Regions from separate parts of the Homo sapiens genome. Here all the other regions are linked to region 3. Evidence: fine-mapped expression QTL. A gene starts in region 3. Each other region holds a variant in brackets. All regions are shown on one strand. Distances are from middle to middle.

Region 1 (4,000 bases), 69 kb after region 3:
CAGAGTTTGCAGTGAGCCAGGATCGCACCATTGCACTCCAGCCTGGGAAACAAGCATAACTCCATCTCAAAGAATGAAAAACAAAACCAAAAAAAAAACCTGGGAGGCAATTTACTAGGAATTTCTGGAAATTTGATTGCCTCACAGCCACCCTGAAAGAGATCTATTTTTTTACCCCTCTAGCCAGTCGTTCTGTAGGAGTGAATTAATCTTTCTAGCCAGTTCTCACCAGGATTTGATGAAGCTCCCAGGGCTGGCATCTACAGAGATTACTGGATGTTGAACAATTTATTCACTACTTCCTTGGCTCAGAATTGGCAGGACGTAATTATCTTAAAAAGTGAGGTATGTCTGTGTTTGGCATTTCTAGGATATGAATGAACCATCAAGCTTCGTGAATGGGGCAGTTTCTCCAGGCTGCAGGGACGCCTCTCTGAACCACCCTCCCTACATGCCACGTAAGAAGCCTTGGCCTCCTTGACTGGCAGAGCCATGACTGGAAGGATTACACTGGAGGAGCCCGAGGCCAGGGGCAGCCCCACAGCTGAGGGCACATCCTCATGGCTGCTGTGGTTTACTGGGGACCAGAGACAAAAGCTCTGCACGTGCTTTACCCAGCCGGGCATGGGCAAGTGACTAGACTCATTGAGCAAATTTCTTGAAATTTGTCCAGAAAGCACTTAGCAGAGCTCATGGCACAAAGGGTTCTCACAGCTGAGTTTCTTAGTTTTTAGGCTTGTGTGAATTCCATCACAGGAATTTCTTGTGTCATCAGTGAGTGGAAATTACTGGCTTCCCCTTATCATGGAGCTGATGGACTTTGGAGTTACACTTGGGTTCATATCTTGGCTCCAGAAATTGTTCTCTCTAGGAGTTTTGTGACTTTTCACAGATTATGTGATATTTCCAAATCTCAGTTTGCTAAATTGTAAAAGACGGATAATGAGATCTTCTTCATAGAATTATGGAAATAATTGGAAGTCAAAAGCCTAAATCAGAGCCCGTCATGTAGTGTTTGACAGCTGTACGTTCTTCCTGACACCTCTGCTTCCTTCAGTGAACTTGATGTTGGAAACACAGCAGGCGCCAATGCAGCTCAGAGCTGGGGGCGCTGTGCTCATGTCTCTGGGGAGATGGAGAGCGACACAGGCAGGACTGAAGTTAGTCTTAAGATCCAGGGCCCAGTCCCTTGAAGAGAAGTCAGGGAGAAACAGAATCAGGGCTGGGTTTCACCTCGCCAGTTCTTCCTCCTCAGATTTGGAGTCCAGGGACAGGGGCCTGAGCAGCAAGACCCTTTGTATGGAGAGTCAGCAGATCCTCCCAGACGGCTCCCTGGTGCAGCACTACAACGTGCACAACCTGTATGGGTGGTCCCAGACCAGACCCACATACGAGTGAGTCTCCGTCTCCCTTCTCCAGCTGTCACAACCTATAGCGATTGCCAGTGACTGACATAGCTACCCTAGTTTTCCTTTCATTCCATTTCTAAGGATTAAGAAGATTCTCATAACTCTGTAATGATTCTTATTTATTAAACAAATGCTCATTGACATGGAGCCAGGCCCTGTGATTAAAAGTAGGAGGACAGATTTAAATAAGGCATGGTCCCACCAGTGAAAAACTTAATGATCCTAGTGGGAAAGACTCACATGGAGACACCATAATGGTCACACAGGGCAGCCAGTGGAACAATAGCTTTAGTTACAGGAGGTGAAGGGAACACAGAGGACTGGGCATCTCTCCCGTTCATTTCAAAGTGAATCATCTTTGGAGATGTTTGTATTTTTGGCCATTCTTGGTGGAGGGTAACTGGTATTGTACTGAATTAGCACAGTCCTGCTTTGCAAGCTCAATGAATAGTATGAATTCTTCTAAGAGGATCTTATAACCTTCACTGTGTTCCTTCTCAAATATAGAAAACTAAGTATTGAGGAAACCATTAGCAAGACATAGTAATTCCTTAGTATTTTGGGAGTACTCCAGTGAGGCTGCTACAGTGAAGTTCTTTGTAAAGCACTGTGAGAACACGTGACTCATTATCTCCATCATCTGGGATCAGTGGAACTCCTATTACAGCTCAGAGTCCCATGTTCCCTCCAGTCACGCAGCAAACATTGACTAGGCTCAAGGGCTCTGGGAGCAGAAGCTCTATGGCCTTTACTCCCTGGCTGTTGCCTCAGTTCACCTCCTGTTCCCTTCCAAGCAGAGCCGTGCAGGAGGTGACGGGACAGCGAGGGGTCGTCATCACCCGCTCCACATTTCCCTCTTCTGGCCGCTGGGCAGGACATTGGCTGGGAGACAACACGGCCGCATGGGATCAGCTGAAGAAGTCTATCATTGGTGCGTGGGTCCTTCCCCAGGGCCTTTGCCGACAGGGCAGGGAGTTGGGATCCTTAGGGAAGAGGTGAGGAGGCAGATCATGAGAGCCTGGTGTGACACAGCTGTGCTTCTCGTTGCAGGCATGATGGAGTTCAGCCTCTT[T/C]GGCATATCCTATGTGAGTGTCCTTGGGATCCTCCTAAGCACCAAGAAGGTGGGGACATCTTTCAGAAATCATCAGCAGGCTCCTTTTATTTCCTCTTGTTTCAGACGGGAGCAGATATCTGTGGGTTCTTTCAAGACGCTGAGTACGAGATGTGTGTTCGCTGGATGCAGCTGGGGGCCTTTTACCCCTTCTCAAGAAACCACAATACCATTGGGACCAGGGTAGGACAGTGGCTTCTACCTCCACTGTTTTATGTCACTTGAAAGACAGTCTCCATTTCTGTGCTAAAAGTAATGCAGTCTCTATTTCCTGGGATATCTTTAAAAAAAGGTGTTTTTTTTTGTTTTGTTTTGTTTTGTTTTTTTTTTTGAAACAGGGATTTACTCTGTTGGCCAGGCTGAATCGTGCAGTGTCCCAATCATGGCTGACTGCAGCCTCCACCTCTGGGGCTAAAGCGATTGTCCCACGTCAGCCTTCTGAATAGCTGGGATAAAGGCACATCCCAGCGTGGCTACCTAATTTTTGATTTTTTGTAGAAATGGGATCTTGCCATATTTCACAGGATGGTCTCGAACTCCTGGGCTCAAGCGATCCACTCGACAGCCTCCAAAAGTGCTGGGATTACAGGCGTGAGCCACTGCACCCTTAAAAATTGTGAAGACCTGGTGTCTCAATGAACCATATTCCTCATTGTGCTTTAGATTATTATTTTTTTCCTGTATTTCAGGCAGAATTTTACCAAATGTTCCAAAAAGAATGTCTTACAGTGAAATTTTATCAGCTGTCTTAGGAGAGCTTTGGTGACTCTTTCCGGTCTATTAAGAATATTCTCTGGGCCTCATGTATAGTTTTCTTTTGTTTAGCTGTGAGTGATCTTCAATTGGAGTATGCTTTTAGTGACCTTCTTAAATCCCCTAGAAATTCCAGGGCGAGCTCCCAACACTGTTCTCTTTCTCCTTTAGAGACAAGACCCTGTGTCCTGGGATGCTGCTTTTGTGAATATTTCCAGAAATGTCCTGCAGACCAGATACACCCTGTTGCCATATCTGTATACCTTGATGCAAAAGGCCCACACGGAGGGCGTCACTGTTGTGCGGCCTCTGCTCCATGAGTGAGTGTCCAGCAGGGATCCCGATGACTAATGGATGACTTATTGCATTCTATGTGGTAGCAGTTGATATACACAACGCTTCCAAATTAAAGACATGATGGCCTTTTGACATGAGCTCTTCAGACACAAAGTATACCTGATTACTGTCTTTAGCACAGTGTTATACATACCGTAGGTCATAAAAAAAGGGTATTTATTGAATGACGAAAATTGAAATGATGCAGTACAGCATAGAATAGTTTCATTCTAATTTGGTTGTGCAAAGGCCTATCTTATGTAGCAGTTTTGTTATATGGACCCAGGTCACAAAAGAAGGATTTCAGCAAGAGAATTGAGGGACGAGGGCCATCCTCACATTTAAAATGTGCCATGGTTAAGAAATGAGGTAATATTTTACAGGAGAGAAC
Region 2 (4,000 bases), 55 kb after region 3:
GTAAAATTAAAAACTTAAATGTAAGGGTTGAAATTGTAAAGCTCCTAGAAGAACACAGGAAACAACCTCCTTGACATTAGTCTTGGCAATGACTTTTTGGATATGATACCAAAAGCAAAGGCAAAATAGCAAATAATAAACAAGCATGACTACATCAAACTAAAAGGCTTCTGCACAGGAAAATAAATAATCAACAAAGTGAAAAGGCAAACTACAGAATGGATAAAAATGTTTGCAAACCATGTATCTCAGAAGAGATTAATATAAAAAAATAAGGAACTCATGCAACTCAGTAGCAAAAGATCAAATGACCCAATTAAAAAGTGGGTGAAGGACCTGAACAGATGTTTTTCCAAGGAAGACATACAAGTGGCTAACTGGCATGTGAAAAGATGCTCAACATCAGTAAGTGACACAGGTATGCAAATAAAAAATTACAGTGAGCTACCACCTCACACCTGTTAGCATGGAAATAATAAAAAAGATAAGAGATAAGTGCTGGCGAGGATGTGGAGAAAATGGAATTTTTGTAGACTGTTGGTGAGAATGTAAATTGTTACAACCGTTATGGAAAATAGTATGCATGTTCCTCAAAAAATTAACAGAACTTCCATACAATCCCATGAAATCCCACTTCTGGGTGTATATCCAGAGGACATGAAACCAGTATCTTTAAGAGATACAGTCACTCCCACGTTCATTACAGCATTATGTGCAACAACCAAGATATAGAAACAATCTAATTATACATTGATGAATGAATGAATAAAGAAATGTGATACACATATACAATTGAAAATTATTCATCCATAAGGAAAAGGAAAACTGCTATGTGTGACCTCAAGGCATAGCTGAAAGGAGTGGTAGGGTGAAATCTGTTCTTCTGAGGTGGGCAGGCCAGAATCTGACTTGTCTTTCTCTCACTTTCAGATACTGTGGCCAATAAAGTGTATCTTTTATGTGAGTTTTCTGTCACTCAAGTGAGTAGCATATTTTTATGAATCTTAGGTGTGGGCTTTGGACTGACCATTAGCACATCTGTGCTTGTGTATATTGTATATGTGTGATTATATTTGTAACTTTATATGCATTATTGGCTATAGGTGAGTACATTTCTATTTATGATTTCATCGATGTTTTCAAAAGGAGGCATTAATATAGCAGCTAGTGTTTCTGAACACAGTTTTTAAATGCCTGTGTGTTTTTATGATCGTTTTAAATTAGAGGATTATCCAAATAATGTTGTACTTCTTCAGCACACACTAGTAGAGAAAGCAGAGAGGCATTTATGGCAGTGGGGGGTATCCGGTCTGGAATGGAATATTTGAGTGACTTGAGAATCTGTGTATACTCATATACCTTTATGCATACTTGGACTTAATTGTTTTGCAGAACCGCTTGGAGGTGAATATTTCACAATCAACCTACAAGGACCCCAATAATTTAGCATTTAATGAGATTAAAATTCTTGGGACGGAGGAACCTAGCAATGTTACAGTGAAACACAATGGTGTCCCAAGTCAGACTTCTCCTACAGTCACTTATGATTCTAACCTGAAGGTAAAAACCCATTTTGTTGAGATGGTACATTGAGAATTCTCCATAGCATCGTGATGTTCCTTCTTGCCAAGTTTGCATGGGTCCCTGAAGGACCAGGGCACCTTTGAGGCCTGTTTTGGGGAAGTGAGAGGGCTGGGGAAAAAAATGAGGTGGCCAGAGCTAGAATGAGTTGGGTATTTTTCTTCTTATTCCCTTCTCTGCCTATCAGTGTTCCCGTCTTTCTAGCTGGTTTCACTTGCTTTTCCCAAAAATAGAATAATTATGATGAGACCCAGGAACAGCAAAGTTGGAAAGTGGGGAATAGCCTGACATTATTAGACTGTGAATTTTGTATGACTAGCACAAATAAGAATTGGTATTTGAAAAAGGCCAGTTTGGATAGGAAACTTGTGGTCAGGTTTTGGAGGTCTTAGTTACCAACTTGATTTAATTCTCAAGCAGTCTCATATTGATCCTTGAATGAAGGCTGTGCTACTGTGTGTGAGCATTGTTGGGAGTGGGAGTGGGGGCTGGGGACTAGTAGAACAGGGAAGTACAAGATGGTTTAGATTGGGAGGAGACTAGGAGAAGGATGATAATCTTTAGAATGTGATTTTTGTACTCCAGACAAGTGAGAACTTTAACTTGGGAAGTGTTGTTTAAAGAAGTGTCAAGATAAGAAAACTATATAGAAAAATATTAAATATTTGAACTAATGGTATTCAAGGAAGGTTTCAGAATTGGAGTCTTTGGGCTTAGAGAAATGAACATGCTGGGATGTTAGAAATAGAAAGAAATATAATGTTT[T/A]TTTCAACTTTTCAAATTTGCCGTTGCTAAAATTGAAACCCAAAGAAATGAAACAGAATACCTGACTTACCCTGATGTGATTATTATGCCCTGTATGCCTGAATCAACATATTTCATATAACCCATAAATATGCATACCTACTATATACCCATTAAAATTAAAAATTAAAAAAAGAAATCATTTGTCCAACATTCTACAGAAATGTGGGCATGATAACCAGGTCATATGATTCTTATTGCTGTGCTCTTTCTACCACTCCACGCCAATGGGTGATACTGGTTTGGGCATTGGAGAGCAAGAGGATCAACTCACTTTAGGATGACATCATGTGTCATCTCACAGCGAGCTAAGAGGAGTCAGGGTAGAAAAGAATAAGGGGTGATCACAACAGGTTTTATTTGACCTAACTGTTTTCATTATGCTAAGTACAAGATTGTGCTAGAGGGGAGACATTTGACCTGTTGCTGCTAAATAGATTCTCCCAATGTGCAGTTCTCTTCTTATAAGCTAAAGTCATATGTTGCTTGGATGTTTGAAAGTCTGGTCTAATTTCTATTTTTTTTTTATCGAAAAAAAAACCTCAGGTCTTGCAAAGCCTGTCTCCTAAAGATGAATTTCCTTATGATTTCCACATTCCTACAGGTTGCCATTATCACAGATATTGATCTTCTCCTGGGAGAAGCATACACAGTGGAATGGAGCATAAAGATAAGGGATGAAGAAAAAATAGACTGTTACCCTGATGAGAATGGTGCTTCTGCCGAAAACTGCACTGCCCGTGGCTGTATCTGGGAGGTAACCATGCTGATGGGGTTTGTGTGCATGAGAATCTCCACACCTAATCTGTAGTTTCTTAAGCATAGCAGTGGTACTTACATAACTACTTAAAATCCATAGAAAGAACTTCCTAAGGGACAGGATCTAGATGTGACAAGTAGGTGGGGACATGTGCGAAACTTCTTAAGATGAATATTTTGCTTGGAGACAAGGAATTGAAATTTATGTTATTGCCAAGTGATAAGTGATGGGCTAGTTTTATCGTCATATAAAATGACTTTACTAACCCTGTTTAGGTTAGAGAACTTTAAGACCACATGCTGTGCTGATCTATGACTTTGGCCTTACTTTTCAGGCATCCAATTCTTCTGGAGTCCCTTTTTGCTATTTTGTCAACGACCTATACTCTGTCAGTGATGTTCAGTATAATTCCCATGGGGCCACAGCTGACATCTCCTTAAAGTCTTCCGTTTATGCCAATGCCTTCCCCTCCACACCCGTGAACCCCCTTCGCCTGGATGTCACTTACCATAAGAATGAAATGCTGCAGTTCAAGGTAAACACAGTACATGTATCAGGTAGTGATTAGACCCTTTTCAGTTCCATTACCTTTTATTGGTCTGGATCACAGAACCCTAAAATAAGTTAATCATGCTACAACAGACTATATCATTATCCAGAGAGCATTGAGAAATCATTGAGGGAACAATGAGACCTGCCCTAATTTTCATTTGGAAAAGATTACTGTGGCTACTGTTAGGAAAATGGTTGGGAGAGCAAGAGTAGGTACGGAGAGACAACTTGGGAGGCTACCAGTTAGGCAGGTCAGTGGAGGGATTAGGTTTGGACTAGACAGTGGAATGCAGGTGGAGAACA
Region 3 (6,113 bases):
TTCTTTCCTCTTTTAGCTGTAAATTCTTTGATTCTATGATGCCAAAGAAACACGGTAAGTCAGTGTTACCACGGTGGTTGTTGTTCACTGATGGTTCATGAAATCAGAAAAGTAAGGATAAGGAAGTAAACTTTCAAAGAGATAAATTGATTCAATTTTGATTATCTGTCTATGTCTACTGTGAAACGACTGTGATAAGAGATAGTGATTTTTGTTTGTATTTTCCAGATGATATACATGGTTTATAAATTTAGGTCTCTTGGCCCAGATTTTTTTCTGAATTTTCACTAGCCCATAAAGACAAATGCCTAGAAATAGCAGTAGCTGAGCAGGACTTTTTAAACTATGTGTGGTAAAACAGCAATTGTTTTAAAATTGTCCAATATATCACAGACTGTGGCTTTTGTAAAATTAAAACTAAATTACTTGAAAAATAAATTTTAAAAAAGCATATACAGATACAAGCTCCATTTTTTAATTATCAAGATCAATGACATGAAATGATTCTGTCAAATTGTAATGCAAGTCTCTCAACACTTACCTTCAATTTCTGTGCTTATTTTTCTGGAAGCTGGCAACCACAGGTTCACAGATAACTCTTGGAGTATCACAGAGCGGGGAACTCTGCCCCACTTGGAGGAAGGTCCACTTAGTAACAGAGCAAAGTTCTTAACCTGGGGTTTGTAGATATAATTCTGAAAGCCTGTGAACTTGGAGGGGGAAAATATTTACATATCTTTTCTTTGCTAAATTCTAATTGAAATTTAGAGTTAGGCTGCAAACTACAGTGGTGTTAGTAGTACCTATGAATTTGGTTTCAAGAGAGGTCACAGTTACTTTCACATCATATATTTAAAACAATCTCAAGATATTGTTTACGCTTATCATGTTTTTGAAATTGCAATCGCTATTAGACATATCGCTTTATTGTTAGTATGTCATTAAAGAGGCACAAACTATAATTTAAAAAATATTATAGTAACTGTGTTTCAATGTAATTGATTTTCTTTGTATCTCAGCTCACTACAACCTCCGCCTCCTGGGTTCAAGTGATTCTCTTGCCGCAGCCTCATGAGTAGCTGGGATTACAGGCACGCACCGCCATGCCCGGCTAATTTTCGTACTTTTAGTAGAGACGCGGTTTCACCATGTTGGCCAGGCTGGTCTTGAACTCCTGGCCTCAGGTGATCTGTCCACCTCAGCCTCCCAAAGTGCTGGGATTACAGGCGTGAGCCACTGCACCTGGCCTAAGAATTAATTCTAAGAGGGGTTTATAAGCATGTCTCAGCTCCATAAGTTCTTCTTGCCCACTGCCCTCCAAAAAGATCAATGAGAACAGCAGGCATTGCAGTAAATAAAGAGTTGAATAATCACAGTGTTGGCCAAACAAGAGCAGGCAAAAACTTCTCAATCCCCTCTCCCTCAGGATTCAAAGGCTAAGGTTTGTAAAGGGTACTTTGGTGGGCATGGGGCTGGGGAACTTGTATAATTGATTGGCAGGGAATGAAATCACAGGAGCACCTAAAACTGTCTTTGTGCAACTGAGTCAGTTCCCAGGAGGGGTGTGTGTGTTGGCCTCAAGACTAGGTGGTGTCTGTTGGTCTACTGAAATGCTAACAAATATCTAAAAGACCAGTTATTTAGGTTTCACAATAGTGATTGATATGGTTAGGCTTTGTGTCAGAACCCAAATCTTATCTTGAATTGTAATCCCCATAATCCCCATGTGTCAAGGGAGGGACCAGGTGGGATGTGATTGGATCATGGGGGCGGATCCCCCTATGCTGTTCTCATGATAGTGGGTGAGTTCTCATGAGATCTGATGGTTTTGCAAAGCAGTTTTCCCTGCTCTTGCTCACTCTCTCTGGCCTGCCGCCATGTTAAGAAGTCCCTGCTTCCCCTTCCACCATGATTGTTTCCTGAGGCCTTCCCACCCTTGCGGAACTGAGTCAACGAAACCTCTTTTCTTTATAAATTACCCAGTCTCAGGCATGTCTTTATAGAAGTGTGAAAACAGACCAATACAGTGATGTTATCTTTGGTAGTTGGGGAAGTTATGAATTTTGTGACACTGGTTGTGTGACTGGGGCAGTAAGCAACTTATAGAAAAACAAACTAAGCCATGGCAGGACATTGTTTATGCCTATTCTTTAGCAAAGTCTAAGCCCCTACCATAATTCCAACCTTGCCTTATGAATGCGCCTTTAAGCTCCAGGCAAGGAGGGGGATCATTTTCCCTTGACTCCAAGTTTAACTATAAACTAAATCCCTCTCATAGGTTTCTTGGCCTTTGTACTAGAATAAGCAAAAAGCCAACCAAAAAAAAAAAAAATCCCCTAGAAAACATAATTTAGCCTGGGAGGTTAGAAGCAAGATGGAGTCAGTCTTGTTAGATTTCTCTTATTTATAGTTCTGCAAAGGCAGTTCAAGAGTCACCAGACTGTTAAAGGATTTCCATACTGCAAACAAGCTTAAGGACACCTTAAAGAAGAAAGAAGAAAACTATTTTTAAAACATTTTTAAAACAACTTCCTTCCATCACAATCATCAGATTGTGCTACTAAACGTCAGTGAGTTCCTGAGAGATTCGGAGTCAGTGCAAGAGACCAGGGCTCTTTTGGAATACTGGGGTCATTTATTTTTTGCTCTTTATCATCTACAAATTGTGTCTGTGTTCTCTTACCAGACATACAGGGTGTCCTCACCACCGATTAAACATTCAGTGCCTGGAGGGGATGGAGTGGGTCATGGGAGCTGGCTTTTCCTTCCAAAAGTCTTAAGGATGTCCTTCTTAGAGCAAGACCACGATTACTAATTAACTAAAAATTCTGATCCTGGAAATAAAAGCTGGCCATTCATTTGCATTTGAAAGCCATTAACATTTTCTTGATAGGTCGGTAAATAGTTACCAGATCTTTGGTTGCTTTGGTGGACTGTGCTCCTCTGCTTTTATTGCTAAGCCATCCTTCAGACAGAGAGGGAGCGGCTGCAAGAGGTAATGAGGTATGTTTGTGAACCTTGTATTCTTTTACGGTTACAGATGTGTGTCTACAAGTGTGTGTGAATTTGAGTTGATCTCTTTTAGTCAAAATGCCCTTGTTGGCCGGGTGCAGTGGCTCACACTTGTAATCCCAGCACTTTGGGAGGCCGAGGCGGGTGGATCACGAGATCAGGAGATCGAGACCATGGTGAAACCCCATCTCTACTAAAAAAATACAAAAAATTAGCCGGGCATGGTGGCGGGCGCCTGTAGTCCCAGCTACTCGGAGAGGCTAAGGCAGGAGAATGGCGTGAACCTGGGAGGTAGAGCTTGCAGTGAGCCGAGATCACGCCACTGCACTCCAGCCTGGGTCGTAGAGCGATACTCCGTCTCAAAAAAAAAAAAAAAGCCCTTGTTAATTTGTTAAACACAAAGATAAACAACACCAATAATAAATCAAAAATTATGCACATGCATACACATGGAACAAAATTCTCATTTATCTTTTTTTCTTAGTGTGTGTATATTTTTCTGAACTAAGGCTGGATCTATAAGCCTGATTGTAGTGAAACCTGTGTGTTTGTGTGTGTTTCTGTGTGAGGTGTGATGAATTATTTAATACTTAGGTTGAGGTAGCAGGCAGAAATTCTTTCAGATTCTGGAAATGAAGTGAGAGAAATGAATAAAAGGAGTTAGAATTTGGGAGTGAGATTAGAGCATTTTCCCTCTGAAAGGATTTGGAGTTGTGATTGAGAAAATGTAACTGAAGAACCAATTATAATCAGAAAATTGAGAAATATATCACTATGCTTATGGGTTTGGTGCCTCTGTTGATTAAATACAGAATAATTTTAGGGGATAGTCTGAGGATGTGTGTAAAATATTGGGATGCATTTATGAGTTGGTGTGCATTGGTGGGTAGGAGAGGTTTCCTGTGGAATGTGGGAGGAGGTCATAAAGAGAAAGGTAGGGTATCTGTCCTGGCAGTCATGTGTGGAGTAGAATGGGAGTGCTCGTGGGAAGAGGAGAAGGTGATAAATTGTTGTTGGCCCTTAAACTTAAAAACTTAAAATAAAATACTTAAAATAAACTTAAAATAAAACTTAAAATAAAACTTAAAAAAAGTTGGATCCTTACTAGTTGCCAGTCTAGCTAGACACACGCAGGCATTTCTTTTCTGACTGGTTACAGAGGTGGGAAGGGAGAGTTACTCTTGGGGAAAGAGAGAGAAATTGAGACTAATCCCCATGGGTCTCCCTGAAAAAGGATACCACTAGGTTCTTCATGCAGGATCTGATCAGTGGCTTTGCTGGGCGAGGAAGACCTCCCAATGTCCAAACTGTCTACAGTCTGTGTCCTGGTGTGGGACAGTAAGTGTATGTCTGTAGGTGTGCAAAGAGGGGGTGAGATGGAGGGGGTCTTTGGTTTGTTGTGCTGGTAGGTCCCTGTGCTACCAGGGACCAAATGAAGTGGGACACTAAATTTAAGACAGCTTGTTGCTATTTCAGTCACACTCTCACAAGATGCCAATGATTATTTTTTATTATCAGGCATTCCCTCACAAATACATTTTAATGAGCTAATAAAATTACTATAAAAATTGTTCTATAAGCATGGAATGGAACTAGAAAAGAAATTTTCCATTTAAAATTTGTTCAGGTGGCAGCTGTGGAATGTGATGAGAAATATAAGCCTTTGCACACCCTGTTGCTGGGCTCAAGGAGGAGTTAGCTGTCTCCTAGAGATGATCCTTTTGCAGTTCAGATGGGGAAACTGAGACCCAGAGGGGTTAAGTGGATTTTTCCAAGGTCATACAGCTGGCTAGGGTCAGAGCTGACTCTTAAATCTCTCACCTTGGGTGTGACCAGACTTGGAAGAAAAAAGCCATTCATTAGCTACCTTATCCCTTCCCATTCACCAAGCAGCTGGGAAAGGATGGCCCAACCTACTAATATCGCCCAGCATTTTTGATGAATAGCTATGGCTCACTGGGGTCCTCTTTGCAAGTTGTTCTTAGTCTATCTATCCACAATGAATCCTCTTTTCCACTAGATCTCATGTCTTGTGTTAGCAAAGGATTTTAAAAGAATGGCTTAGACCTCCATATACACATCAAACGCTGGCTATAATGCCGGAAAGAGGACAAATATCCAGTTTTTCCAAATTAATTTAGATAGCCATTTTAATAATTTGGGCCCCCATGTGGTTTGTCTACTTTGCCTAAAGAACTATAATGGTACCAGGACAATGAGCTTTGACAATTATTCATATACTAAATAATTCAAGAAGAAAAAAATTCTATTGCTTTTGCGTAATGTATATATAGTAATAATTCTTTTTTTAAATTTTACTTTAAGTTCTGGAATACATGTGCAGAATGTGCAGGTTCGTTACATGGGTATACATGCGCCATGGTGGTTTGCTGCACCTGTCAACCCATCATCTAGGTTTTAAGCCCCACATGCATTAGGTATTTGTCATAATTCTCTCCCTCCCCTAGCCCGCCATCCCCTGACAGGCCCTAATGTGTGATGTTCCCCTCCCCATGTCCATGTGTTCTCATTGTTCAACTTCCACTTATGAGTGAAAACATGTAGTGTTTGGTTTTCTGTTCCTGTGTTAGTTTGCTGAGAATGATGGCTTCCAGTTTCATCCATGTCCCTGCAAAGGACATGAACTCATCCTTTTTTATGACTGCATAGTATTTCATGGTGTATATGTGCCACATTTTGTTTATTCAGTCTATCATTGATGGGCATTTGGGTTGGTTCCAAGTCTTTGCTATTGTAAATAGTGCTGCAGTAAACATACGTGTGCGTGTGTCTTTATAGTAGAATGATTTATAATCCTTCGGGTACATACCCTGTAATGGGATTGCTGGGTCAAATGGTATTTCTAGTTCTAGATCCTTAAGGAATTGCCACGCTGTCTTCCACAATGCTTGAACTAATTTACACTCCCAACAGTGTAAAAGCGTTCATATGTATATAGTAATAATTCTTATATTTCAGTAAGATTATTTTCTGACCAACCTAATTAAAATTGCCACCCTTACCCCAACATTCCTCATTTACCCCCCACTTTTTCTCCATATACTTACACAGTATAACCCAGTGTATATTTATTTATTTTG
Region 4 (4,853 bases), 110 kb after region 3:
CATCGATGTGACTGACAGAAACATCAGCCTACATAATTTTACTTCATTGACGTGGATAAGCACTCTGTGAATTTTTACAGCAAGATTCTAACTAACTATGAATGACTTTGAAACTACTTATACTTCATACTCATAAAAATTATTGTGTGTTGCTAATTTGTTCATACCCACTATTGGTGAAATATTTCTGTTAATTTTGTTATATGTTTTTTGTGTGAACCCTAAAGGTTAAACCTTAGCCCTGTGGGATAGGCAGTTAGGGAGGTGTGGAAAATCTATGCATTACCTTAATGTCTCTGTGTGGTTAGTATGGTAGTGACTGTTCATCATATGACATTTACTGAAGATGAACTGGGTCCATGATGAAGTGTGTGTATGTCCACGTTTGTAATCATAGAATGGACCCCATTCTTTTGTTAAATACACAAGAGAAAGCTTTCTGTGACAGTTCCAGGTCTTGAAGCTAATCAGCATCTCAAGAAAGTATCCAGAAAGAACATCTGCTAGTTGGTTATAGGCGGTGGGAGGAATAATATACCTAATTGGTTATAGGTGGGGGGAGCATGATAAGCAAAGAAAAGGCAAACACAAGGAAAGATCAGATGAAACAGAAGATGATAGTAAAAGTGATCCTAAGTAAGAACATAATGTAAAATTGTCAGCAGCCTCATGGGGAGGAAAAAGGAAGAGTCAACTCACTTGAAGAAGAGGGTCTTGAGAAATCCTTAGCATAAAGGGCTACTGGTGAGATTGAGATCTGAGCAGGCAAAGCTCAAAAGAGAGTTTGGAGGTTAAAAATAATTTATTTTTGCAGTAGTGTGCTTTGAAATGTGTAAATCTTATTTCTAATGTATACAACCACATTTCACATAAAAATATGCAATTTATATGCCAGATAAAAATAAAACAAGTGAATTTGCAAGTGATTTTGAATTTTGTGCTATTTTGACCATGAGTAATCTCTGTTTGGGGTTAAGGTTCTTGTTTAGCAAACTCTTATGAATTTGTCTTTCTGGTTCTCTTCGGCATCACAGAACCTACAGCCAAATCCACCAATAGGATGATAACCTTTATAATTATCCTTTTTCTTACATCTCTGCAAGGAGTCTTTTATAAGATGTGGGTTTGTGGAAGGGTCTATTGATTACTATTTTAATCATCATAGCAGTTGCTATATTTAGGAAAATACCAACTCCAGTAAAAATAGGAGTTGCAACCTTCTTGCTTAAAATTCTATAGGGTTAAAATGTGAGATAAGGAAATTATATATTAATGTTCAACAGGAATATTAACTTTTGATGTTACCTGAAAATGAGTTGAAAATGAATGTGTGTGGAATGAATGAACCTACTTCTCTGTGTTTTCTTCTTTTCTTATAACCAGGAAGCCATTCATTCTCCCTGCACACTCATGTGTCAGCACCTGCATAAGGCTAGAGACAAACAATATTGTTAAATCATCTAATTATCACAATACGGGGCATTTGGATGAGGGCCTGAGCTAACTAGGAAACTGGTGAAATATGGAAAAGCAGCCATGGGAATCCTTTGATCAAAAAGGTGGGAAACTTGTCAGCTTTCCTCTAACAAACTCAGGAAGGCCACAAAGATGAAAACGTTATTTACTTGATATTTAAAAAATATTTAATGTTACCATCAAGGATATGTTGGTGGAATTTGGCTCTGGCTGCCACA[G/A]AATGCTTAAGGAGAGGCATTCTGACTATATAATTCTGATGGCTAAGGCCCTAGTGAGGCCAGTGGGGTTTTGGAGCACACGAAGTGTCAGGGACCCCACTGACAGCCTAGTGAAACCTACGGAATTCTTCCTCACAACATTGTTTTTAAATGCATCAAGCAAAATGCATGCTATTTCAAAGAAAACTTATCATATTACGATACACTTATCCAAATATTAAAGATGATATAGTAACCCATGAGATGTGTTTTTTTCATTATCAAATTAAATGAAAAGATCCAACAGTGGAAGTAACAATGCTATAATTTCAATGTAATGATCAACATCAACAATATTTTGAGATATCCACTACAATTTCATAATGTAATATGGAAAGATCTGTGATTGCATTATTGACAAACTCATGTGCTATGAAAACTACTGTGTTTTGTTGTCTACATTCATAACCTAACAAAATGCTAAATTTCAGCCAGAAATGTGTGAAAAAGAGATTATCTGTTGGAACCAATATGGCTTACCGGAGTTAACGCAGAAAGAGCTTGCTGACGTCACAGCCTGAATTTCCACCACAGGTTCTTACTAACTCCCTCCCAAATTTGCACATGAGACCCATGATGAGGCATGAAGAGATAACTGTGCATGCCTGAGGACTTTCTAGATTTCCTCTTTCTTTTACCAATCACCTGCTAATCCCAGAATCCACCCCCTAAGTCTTTTCTGATAAAAATACTTCCTTAAAGCCAGCACAGGAAGACAGGTTTGAGCTGGACTCCTGTGTCCTGTGAGTCGACTTTGCAATAAAAGCTTTTCTTCGAAACCCTTTATCAGAGTATTGGCTTCTAGCGCATCGAAGAGTGAGCCCTTTCGCTCAATAATACCCCCAGAGGTTGTTCCTCAGATCACAGTCTGAGAACCACCTCTCATGGAACCATATCCATTTGTGGCCATCCCAGAGCAGCCCCTACAACATGGACCTATGCTTACAACTCCTGGCCAGCTATTCAGGAAGAGGCTGGGGGCCTTCCTTTTCCACATATGCTCTGTTTTTTAGATCACATAATTTTGCTTTCTTCATAGGTGTGCCAAAATAAAAAAAAAAACACTCTCAAACTCTTTCACTTAAATAGGAAGACATCTATTCCTTTCTTATTAATGTTATAACATTAAATGTCATATATACCTGCAAAGATAAGGTTATGTTGGCCGTGGCAGATGTCTTCAAGATCTCATCAATATTTCTTTGTTCTTGTCATAGCGGCAGAGTCACTGAGAGTTTTGCATCTGGCCTTGGAGAAAGGTGTTCTGGAAGTTAAGGGTGACTCATATTACTAGTTTCTGATCTGATGATTCCAACCAGCAGCTTGCTGTGACAACTGTTTGAGTTCCGCCAATAGCTAACTTTGCCGTGCCTTGTTACCGATAGACAACTGGAAGATGTCGGGTCACGTGCCTGTCTCTACCCTTCAAAGTGGCTCTGTTATTTTCTCATTGGTCAACACCAGTATGGTGATTCAATATCTTCCAGTTACTAGTTAGCAAGAATGGAAGGTGAAGGTAGCTATTTTCTGCACTTTAGGAAACAGGTTATAGATTAGCTGGGCCTGTTGGTTACCACTATTAACATAAATGAAGTCACAAATGTGCATGGCATGTGGGGAGTTAAAGGTAAAATATCACACAAAAAATAGATCTTATGTAACAATAAAATCTCCCTTCTTGACCTTTTGCCAGGATGTCTTCCCAATTTGAAATGAGATCTTGGTACATTTCCCCTCTAACAAAGGCCACCTTGTACTGGGGCAAATGAAAAGCTGAATATGTCATTCCAGCAGTTCATAAATGCAGAAACCGAGTCTCTCTTTCTCTCTCTCTCTCTCTGTCCCTCCCTCTCTCTCTCTCACTTTCTCTCTCTCTCTCCGTGTGTGTGTGTATGTGTGCTTTTCCACATACTGAGCATTTGAAGCAAACACAAAAGATTCACTACTGTGAACACTGTTATTTACAGTTCTTAGGTGCCACCAAAAGAGCTCTCTGTACCCTCATATATTACTGGCAGGAATGGGGGTGTAAAATGGTGCTGCCACATTAGAAAGCAGTTTTGCAGTTCTTCAAAAAGTTAAAGACTTGTCACATGACCCATGATTCCACTCCTAGGTATATTCCAGGCAGAATTTTAAAACGTGTCAGCTCATAGCAGCATCGTTCATAACAGGCAAAAAGTATCAACAACCTAGATGTATATCAGCTGATACATGCCTAAACAAAATGTGGTCTATCCACGCAGTGGATACTATCCAGACATGGAAAGGAACAGACACTGATACCTGAAATGGTGTGGATGAACTTTGAAAATATCATGCCAAGTAAAAGAAGCCAGACACAGATGGCCACATATTGTATTACTGCATTTATATGAAATGTTCACAATAGGCAAATCCATAAGGACAGAAAGTAGGTTAGTGGCTGCAGAAACAGGGGGAGATGGGAATGGGGAGTGACCACTAATTATTTTTGGGGGTGGCAAAAATGTTCTGGAATTAGATAGTGGTGATAGTTTCAGAATTTTGTAAATATATTTTTAAAAACACTGAATTGTATACTTTAAAAGAGTGAATCTTATGGTTTGGAAATTATATGTCAATTTAAAAATCCACTTTAGCTGGCTTAAGAAAAATTTTAAAAAGATATTGGTGACTCATTGAAACTCCGGTAGGACTAGAGAGTCAGGTTTGTAGGCCATGTGGCTAGGGACAAGCCCCAGGTTACCCTGTAGCGGTTTCTACTGCCACTGCCCTGAGCACATATCTGGCAGCTCGCAACCCCAAATACTGAGCATAGGATGCCACTAGGTCTCTTGTCCCTGCTGCCTCTGAAACGAGCTATGCTTCCAACATCCTGGATTTTACATGGTACCTCCTTATCTACACCTTCTTCTGGATGTAAGTCACTCACAGGAATATCTCATTCACAAAGCTCCAGCCACTTGCCTCTACCTTGGATGAAAGAAAGGCTGTGAAAGAGAATTTCTAGCTGTTTCTTTGGGGAGGCAGAATTTGGAGAAAAAGTCCTTAAGTTGATTTAAGTAAGAGGTTTTCTTTTTCTTTTTAAAGAAAGATCCTCCGTTTTTAAATTTTTTTCAACTTTTATTTTAGATTCAG

Which allele goes with the higher level. Alleles are on the strand shown, and positions count from the first base shown. SD is a standard deviation of normalised expression in the study named. Not every link is listed here.
For the expression in whole blood of the gene that starts at base 2,952 in region 3, C is the high allele of the variant in region 1 and T is the other (small effect, 0.16 SD a copy in GTEx).

The links. PIP is the estimated chance that this variant, and not a neighbour inherited with it, causes the effect.
Region 1: its variant is fine-mapped to the expression of MGAM in whole blood (GTEx, PIP above 0.99). The same link has a PIP of 0.9 or more in monocytes.
Region 2: its variant is fine-mapped to the expression of MGAM in whole blood (TOPMed, PIP above 0.99).
Region 4: its variant is fine-mapped to the expression of MGAM in whole blood (TOPMed, PIP above 0.99).

The regions. Positions count from the first base shown.
Region 1 is chr7:142,063,129-142,067,128 of GRCh38, forward strand. It overlaps MGAM (maltase-glucoamylase), which reads left to right. Exons shown (of 71, transcript NM_001365693.1): 36 at 371-458; 37 at 1,256-1,394; 38 at 2,207-2,340; 39 at 2,460-2,494; 40 at 2,587-2,703; 41 at 3,445-3,593. Among named protein-coding and RNA genes, the nearest start is that of MGAM2, 47 kb to the right of the region's middle. The variant T/C (reference allele first, on the strand shown) is at 2,482.
Region 2 is chr7:142,049,305-142,053,304 of GRCh38, forward strand. It overlaps MGAM (maltase-glucoamylase), which reads left to right. Exons shown (of 71, transcript NM_001365693.1): 23 at 931-980; 24 at 1,393-1,560; 25 at 2,990-3,142; 26 at 3,480-3,680. Among named protein-coding and RNA genes, the nearest start is that of MGAM, 55 kb to the left of the region's middle. The variant T/A (reference allele first, on the strand shown) is at 2,347.
Region 3 is chr7:141,992,928-141,999,040 of GRCh38, forward strand. It overlaps MGAM (maltase-glucoamylase), which reads left to right and starts at 2,952. Exons shown (of 71, transcript NM_001365693.1): 1 at 2,952-3,003. RefSeq lists an enhancer at 2,650-3,151.
Region 4 is chr7:142,105,822-142,110,674 of GRCh38, forward strand. It overlaps MGAM (maltase-glucoamylase), which reads left to right. Exons shown (of 71, transcript NM_001365693.1): 71 at 1-926. The coding sequence ends at 70. Among named protein-coding and RNA genes, the nearest start is that of MGAM2, 3.5 kb to the right of the region's middle. The variant G/A (reference allele first, on the strand shown) is at 1,695.